2 separate regions of the Homo sapiens genome follow, and region 1 is linked to region 2. Evidence: fine-mapped expression QTL. A gene starts in region 2. The other region holds a variant in brackets. All regions are shown on one strand. Distances are between the middles of the regions.

The links. PIP is the estimated chance that this variant, and not a neighbour inherited with it, causes the effect. A credible set is the group of variants that fine-mapping cannot tell apart.
Region 1: its variant is the best candidate, but not a certain one, in a credible set for the expression of GAPT in monocytes (TOPMed, PIP 0.54).

Annotation. Positions count from the first base shown.
Region 1 is chr5:58,512,706-58,517,107 of GRCh38, forward strand. No RefSeq gene overlaps it. Among named protein-coding and RNA genes, the nearest start is that of MIR548AE2, 15 kb to the right of the region's middle. The variant A/G (reference allele first, on the strand shown) is at 2,347.
Region 2 is chr5:58,489,499-58,493,900 of GRCh38, forward strand. It overlaps GAPT (GRB2 binding adaptor protein, transmembrane), which reads left to right and starts at 1,937. Exons shown (of 3, transcript NM_001304431.2): 1 at 1,937-2,043; 2 at 4,213-4,340.

The DNA of each region.
Region 1 (4,402 bases), 23 kb after region 2:
CTATTGGATACTTGGGTGGCAATCTGCATGACAATGACTTTTAATGGACATTTGATATGGTTTGGCTGTGTCCCTGCCCAAATCTCAACTTGAATTGTATCTCTCAGAATTCCCACATGTTGTGGGAGAGACCCAGGGGTAGGTAATTGAATCATGGGGGCTGGTATTTCTCATGCTATTCTCATGATTGTGAATAAGTCTCACGAGATCTGATGGGTTTATCAGGGGTTTCTGCTTTTATTTCTTCCACATTTTTCTCTTGCTACCACCACGTAAGAAGCGCCTTTCACCTCTCGCCATGATTCTGAGGCTTCCCCAGCCATGTGGAACTGTTTAAGTCCAATTAAACCTCTTTTTGTTCCCAGTTTGGGGTATGTCTTTATCAACAGTGTGTAAACAAACTGATACAACATTTTTAAGGAACTCACCATAATCTCATTTCTAAAAGTGACCTCACACATTGAAGAATAGTGTCTTTCAGACCTTTTAACTAATTATTTCCTCTTCCTGGAATGTTCTGCCCCAGGTATCTGTTTAGGCTATTCTGTCACTTTCTTCAAGGCCAGTACCCCATTGGTCAGACTACTTCATTCACTTCATAATAATAACTAACACTTATGTAACATGACAAGAATCATTATACATCAATTGACTAAAAAGTGACATTTTAAGAGATTAAATTTTAAATTTTAATTGTTATATATCATTGCGGGAAGCCAGGGACCCCGAACAGAGGGGCCGGTTGGAGCCACAGCAGAGGAACATAAATTGTGAAGATTTCGTGGACATTTATCACTTCTGAAATAATACTTTTATAATTTCTTACACCTGTCTTACTTTAATCTCTTAATCCTGTTATCTTCATAAACTGAGAATGTATGTCACCTCAGGACCCTGTGATAATTGCGTTAAATGTACAAATTGATTGTAAAATATGTGTGTTTGAACAATATGAAATCAGTGCACCTTTAAAAAGAACGGAATAACAGCGATTTTAGGGAACAAGGGAAGACAGCCATAAGGTCTGACTGCCTGTGGAGTCGGGAAAAAGAGCCATATTTTTCTTCTTGCAGAGAGCCTATAAATGGACATGCAAGTAGGGAAGATATTGCTAAATTATTTTCCTAGGAAGGAATATTGATATTAATACTCTGGGAAAAGAATTGCATTCCCAGAGGGAGGTCTATAAACAGCCGCTCTGGGAATGTCTGTCTTATGCAGTTGAAATAAGGACTGAAATACACTCTGGTCTCCTGCAGTACCCTCAGGCTTAGTAGGATTGGGAAACTCCAGCCTGGTAAATTTTTGGTCAGACCGATTCTCTGCTCTCAAACCCTGTTTTCTCTTAAGATGTTTATCAAGACAATACATGCACCACTGAACATAGACCCTTAGGAGTTTCTGATTTTGCCCTTTAAAGCATGTGATCTTTGTGACCTACTCCCTGTAATTACACCCCCTCCCCTTTTGAAATCTTTAATAAAAACCTGCTGGTTTTGTAGCTCAAGTGGGCATCACAGTCCTACCAATATGTGATGTCACCCCCGGTGGCCCAGCTGTAAAATTCCTCTCTTTGTGCTCTTTCTCTTTATTTCTCAGACTGGCTGACACTTATGGAAAATAGAAAGAACCTACATTGAAATATTGGGGGCGTGTTCACCCAATAATATACTTATATGGTTCAAAATTCAAAAGGTACAATAGAATTTATACTGAAGTTTTTCTTTTAGCCCTGTTCCATATTCCCACTTTCAGCTCTTGACACCAGAAAGAACATAACTCACACATTAGGGGCAAATCACATTAGTAGAAGATGAAGCTCATAGATTGTTACTCTTTTAATAAAAATATGAAGAGTTTACATTATTACATGCACTTGTGAACTGTCACACAATTTAATGGACTATGATATTTCATTTTCTGCCTCATGTGGATAATTAATGAAAAAAAATCTCTAGAGCACTAAGATGTTACATTGTGATGTGGCATAAACATTATTTCTTTAGGGAGCAATGATCAATTTTTTAAATTTTATTTTCCCAAAATTTTGCACATTTTAATTATTTAAAATTTATTTAGAAGATTTATTTACAAGATGGCCAATCGGAAGCAGCTATGGTCTGCAGCAATCATGGAGAGGAATGAAAGCGGTGAGTAAATTTATCACCTTCAACTGAAATATCCAGGTTCTCGCATTGGGACTGACTAGGCAATCAACTGAATCCAAGGAGAATAAAGAAAAGCAGTGTAGGGCAACAGTTTACCTGGAAGCAGCACAGAGCCAAAGGAAGCCCTCTCAGCCAAGGGTAGTGGTAAATGATTGTGTGACCTTGCCTGGGAAACCAC[A/G]CTTCTCCCACAGATCTTTGAAACCAATGGATGAGGAGATCTCCTCCTGAGCCCACACCACCAGGGTCTTGGGTCCGATACACAGAGCTGTGTGGAGTTTTGGCAGAGCATCTACTCAGGCACACACAGAGACCCAGGAGTTTTACATACTCTGGCCTCGGATTCCCAGCAAGGTGGCAGATTCATCTGTACCTTCCCCTAGGAAGGTGGCTGAATCCAGGGAGCCAAGCAGCATTGTTCTGTGGCCCACTTCCACAGCACCTCAAGTTAAGACCCACCGGCTTGGACTTCCAATCAGATAATGGCAAAAGGCTGAGTCTGCCTGAAATGGGAGGGAGTTCCCGGGGAGGGGGGTGGCCACCATTTCTGTGGTTCAGTGGACTCAGCATTACAGCCTCCTGGCTCTGGAGAATCCAGGTAGTCCAGATGAGGAGGAGTCCCCCACAATGCAGCACACCTGCTTTGCCAGATTATGCTCCACCTGCTTCTGTAAGCAGGACACCAATCCATTCCTCCCCTTTGGGAGGGGCCTCCCTGTGGTGGGGCCTTCAGTTACAAGTCAGGCTTATATGGACAGAACTGTGATCTCTCCTGGAACTGAGCTCCCAGTGGGAGAGGCAGCCACCATCTCTGCAGTTCAGTCAACTCAACTGTTCCAACTTGCTGACTCTGGAGAGTCCAGGTGGTCTCGATGAGGAAGGGTCCCCCCAGTGCAGCACACCTGCTCTACTGAAAGCAGCCAGACTGCTTCTGTAAGAGGGTCCCTCTTCCGTTCCTCCCGATTGGGTGAGACCTCCCAAACAGGAGTTTCCAGACATCTACAGGAGAGTTCCAGCCAACAACAGGTCAGTTACACCCCTGGGATGGAGCTTCCAGAGGAAACAGGTGGCTATGATCTTTGCTGTTTCTCAGGCTTCACTGGTGATAGCTCCAGGTATCAGAAAACCCAAGGCAACTAGGGTCTGAAGTGGAACCTCCAGCAAACCACGGCAGCCCTATGGTTGCTAACAGTCAGTGACCTTACTGTTAAAAGAAAAACAAACAAAAAAAGAAAACAACAACAACAACAAAGACCTCACAAAAACCCCATTCAAAAGTCAGCAACATCAAAGATTAAAAGTGGATAAGCCCACGATGATGAGAAGAAATCAAAACAAAAACACTGAAAACTCAAACAACCAGAGTGCCTTTTCTCCACCAAATGACCACAACACCTCCCCAGCAAGGGCACAGAACTGGGCTGAGGCTGAGATGGCTGAATTGACAAAAGTAGGCTTCAGTGGGTGGTAATAAGGAATTTTGCTGAGCTAAAGGAGCATGTTGTAACCCAAGGGAAAGAAGCTAAGAATCATGATAAAACAATACAGGAGCTGAAAACCATAATAGCTACTTTAGAGAAGAACATAACTGACCTGATGGAGCTCAAAGCACAACACAAGAACTTTACAATGCAATCACAAGTATCAATAGCAGAATAGATCTAGCAGAGGAAAGAATCTCAGAGCTTAAAGACTGTCTTTCTGAAATAAGACAGGCAGACAAGAATAGAGAAAAAAGAATAAAAATCAATGAACAAAACCTCTGAGAAATGTGGGATTATGAAAAAAGACCAAATCTGTATATTGGTCTGATTGGGGTACCTGAAAGAGATGGGGAGAACAGAACCAAGTTGGAAAACATACTTTAGGATATCATCCAGGAAAACTTCCCCAAACTAGCAAGAAAAACCAACATTCAAATTTAGGAAATCCAGAGAACCCTAGTAAGATACTCCATGAGAAGACCAACCCCAAGACACATAATCATTAGATTCTCAAAGGTCAAAATGAAAGAAAAAATGTTAAGGGAAGCCACAGAAAAAGGCCAGGTCACCCACAAAGGGAAACCCACCTGACTAACAGTGGACCTCTCAGCAGAAACCATACAAGCCAGAAGAGATTGGGGACCAATATTCAACATTCTTAAAGAAAAGGATTTCCAACCAATAATTTCATGTCCAGCCAAACTAAGCTTCAAACCAAAGAAGAAATAAGATCCTTTTCACACAAGTGAGTGC
Region 2 (4,402 bases):
AAGGAACTGAAAGGAGACAATAAATATGTATTTTGCGAGGCCAAAGATTGGGAAGTAGGAAAATATAGAATTCAAGACATAAAACATAATCCCTACAAATGACAATGATCCAATAATTCTATTTTGAATATATACAGCATTTCTTTTATAAACTTGAAGAATAATTATATCCATTACATCAAAAAAATTCTATTTGAGGAAAGTGCCAGTCATTTTCCCTCCATTTTATTTTCCGTTAGAAAAACTAAAGTAATAAGGGGTTAAGCAACTTTTTTAACTTCAAAGGGCAAAAGCTGAATGAGCACCAGTTGTCCTGCCTTCTAGAGAAAATCATAATTTTATACAAACATTGTATAAATTGCCTTTCTTACAGATGTATGCCTAGGCAGGTGAGTGTGTATATTATTTGGAGGGGTGGCTAATACTGAAGTTAAATATAGTGGTGAGAATGTGGAGCACATCAAGTTCATAGCTTCACAACTTCATAACCTCCTTCACTGTAAGATTTTTGTCCAGGACACCCCTATTCTGCCTTAACACCTTATTCTATGAGGCTTAGCTCAGGTCTTGCCTTCCCTGACCACCCTCTGAGCTGGATGCCTCTTTCCTTTACCTCCACTGTCCCTGTCCATAATCCTGTCTTTCTTAGGCATTATCACTTTGATCTGAAATGTTCTGTGGGCGCAGCAGCCTCTCTACTTGGCTTTAAGTGCTGCAGGGAGCTTATTCACTCTTGCATCCTCATCTCTTAGCACAATGCCTGGCATAATGTCAGTGCTCAGCAAGTGTTAATAATACGTCCTGTCCTTCCAATGTCCAGTAGTTATTTCAGTAACTAAATCCTCTTTTTTAAAACCACCTTATGCAAAGTTAATCCTCTGTGGTTCAAAAAGTTCCAAGACAACTTAAAAGACAAATTTTCCATTACTTTGTCATCTCATCTGTCGAATTCATCTGTAATTTGTCTAATTCAGCATCTCCCACTGTGTGTGTTCCCATGAGTTGGACTCCAAGAGATGCTCTTGGTAAGCGTATCTATGTGGGAAACATGTTACTCAATCTAGCAAGGCAGCCAGTGCAGTGGTTTAGCACACAGGTGCTGGGGGCAAACTGCAGGCTCTGTCGGGCAAGTGATCATTCTGTGTGCTTCTGTTTCCTCTTCTGTAAAATAGGACTAATAACAGTTTTTCTCCCTCACAGGGTTGTTGCCAAGATTTGCTGAGTATTACACAAAAGGTTTGGAGTACTTAGTGCTAGGAACATACTGACTACTATTATTAAGCAAAGTTAAACAATTTCTTTTTCTTATTTGGTTTTATTTTGTTTGCTGGCTGTAAGACTGCTGAGAGCCTTTAGCATGCTGATGTACCCATGAATCTCCAGGGAAGCAGTATTCCCCACATTTACTTGATGGAAGAGCTGCTAGCATATCTCAGGGGTAATGGGCCTCAAAACATACCTTAGGAAATTCCTATTTATAAATTTAAAAGAACGTTAACATTTTCCAAACCCAAATTGGGACACTGATTTGACCTGTATGGCTATAACTTGGGAGCATTGGTACATAATATTAATATTTGAAGAGAGGACTGGTCTAGCAACACAAGTAAATAATAATAATAATAATAAAAGCCCAAGACCTATGTGTTACTACAATTAAAATATTTCTTTTTTTAAAAAATCAAAGTACAAGTGAAGTGACTTTTATTGATATTAAAGTGGGAACTGCAAATATGGCCCAAATAAAAAACCATGTAGGCTTTACGTATTATTTTCTGACACAGTTAAAAAACTATTACTTGACAAAGATGAAGGGCCAGACTTCCTTATTCAAAACCTCACGCCATTTATCTTAATTCTGCTGCATCTGATACTGACTTCCTCTAGAGCCAGGAAACTTTGCAAGTATTAAATAGCGTGAACGAAGGAGGGAAAGAAGGAAGTAACCCACCAAAGTGAAAAAGAGGAACAAGTTCTAACCCAATGCAGGTTTAAAACATAACCAAAAGAACAAAAGAGAGAGCTTGACACACCAATCTTGAGGTAAGTAAGAACCTGATTTAAGGTATTTGGATGATTAAACACTATAAGAAACAAGTTTGTCTTTAATTAATCAATGATTTTTATCTTACTACAGTTTTTAGAAAAAAATGCCTTACGTAGCTGTAAGGGGGAAACCCAATTTACAAACTGAGAGTGATGTTAATGTTTCTTTACAATATGATTATGCTTTGCTGTTACCTTGTTTCCAAACAGCAGGGCATTCTCTTACTTGAAAATTCCTGAAGTTTCTCAACAATTTGCGATTTTAAGAAAAATGTCAAATTGTTAGGTAACCTGTTGGAACTGCTTTCCAAAATGAAAACAGAGTCTTCTTTCAAACTGGTCAAAGTGAACATTATTTAAGTGTTAAACTATATTTGAATGGTTATTGTTTAAAATATGTTTTTCATTATAGTAGGTCTTTGTTCATGTCTCACAGGTTTTTTCCTCTAATGTTATTTCGAAGAAAATGATGCATTTCTTTTTCTGTAAAAAGTCTTCTTGTCTTTATCTTGGTAAATATCTCTTAGACAAACAATTTTAATATTTTGGATGTACCAGAATTTCTACTCTACATAGAATAACATAGATGGTAAAAATGCCTTTTCTTCTTAAAAATTAAGAGAGTAATTTATTGCCTTATCCTCAGCTACAGAAGTGACAATAGTTAGCCTTCCTCAACCCTCACCGTGACTTCTGTTGCAGGCCTAGTATCTTTCAAAAAGTTGATTAATTTCAATCAATACTTAAAGTGTATTTTGTAAATTTATTTCAAATATTCTGGCAAATAACTTCTTAAATCATTAACCATGTATACCATAAAATATCTTGCAGATAATTGGTGCTCATCTGTTTCAGACAGGAAATGAGGTCCTAATGATTAAAGTCATTTGGCTAAACTTTTGTCCTTGAACACAAGCACGGCTGGCCTTATAAAGGAGGGACCCTGCAGATTGTAAATCTTATGTGGCGGACCATACAGTTCTCAACCTCAATATTACTCCCAAAAATTCCAAGGAGATTAAAATGTTTCTGCATCTGGGGTGCTTGTCCCTGTATTTTTATCAAAAAATTGTATAAATTAGCTGCACATCTTATTTAATTTTCTTTTATGAAATGTCAAATTAAATATTTGCATATTAATATATTCTAACCTTGGACAAATTTATGAACGTTCATTACCATTAAACTTTTCATGAAAACTCACTGAAAGCAGAGCACCACTTTGTGAATTTCTATTTTTCTTCTCATTGTTACTATTATTATCCCATAAGGAGATTACTTCATTCATTAACAAATGTCTAATAGATTAGTCATTCTGTGTCTAATGCTGGTGTTGGTAATACAAAGGTAAATAATATATGATTTCCAACCTTCGAGAACCTCAGAGCTAATCAAGCTATACAAATTTTCTGACTGATGCACTTAGTAGCATGTTACAGATATTTGGATAAATAATATTTTGGGGAAATTTTTACCTGAATTCTCATTCAGTCACATTTTGGTTGTAAGGAAGTTACTTAACTTCTTTAAGCCTCTCTTCTTATCTATAAAATGGTGATATGAATAGTACCCACTACATATAGCAGCTATAGGATTAAATGAGATAATCCCTGTAACAGTTTTTAAAAGCTGAAACTCTTAACTAAACATTATTGATGATAATAACATTCCATAGATGATAATAATCATTTCACAGGCACTGTTGGATCTATGTCTATGTCTAGACTGAAAATATACAGTAATAATGTTTTGTTGATAAAATCACAATGGAACATGCAGCCCAGTTGAACACTTCCCCTTCTTGTCTCCTTGCCATTTTAAAGCATCAACAGAAAACAATGTAAAATCATCTTGCATGGAAGTTATTTTCTGAAAGCTATGAGAAAACCTGTGATACTAAGGATTTTGAAAATACATTGGTTTACTTTAAAGATCTCATTTCATGTTTTAAGTATAAACTACACCCTTGAGTTTTAAACTATCATCTTAAGCAATTAGATGCTGACATTTGCAGTCATTTTTAAATGCATTATTTCATTCAATAAATATTGATTGGATGCATTTTCTGTGCTAGGTGTTGTGCCATTCTCTGGGAACATACAGATGAAATGACCTGAACCCTGCCCACCATTTAACCAAGTAAGAATACAATTCTCTCTCATTTAGGTTATCACGCTATAATAGAGAATGGACTCATTAATATGGGATTACAGAGGAAGGAATGGTTAAGAAAAAGACATGGCCTCTGACTGCTCCAAAAAAGGATAAGCAGGGCTTCACAGAAGAGGTGACAGGTAATAAAGATGATTGCACGTGTCTGTATATGTCCCTTTTTTTCTATTGTGCTCAGAACATT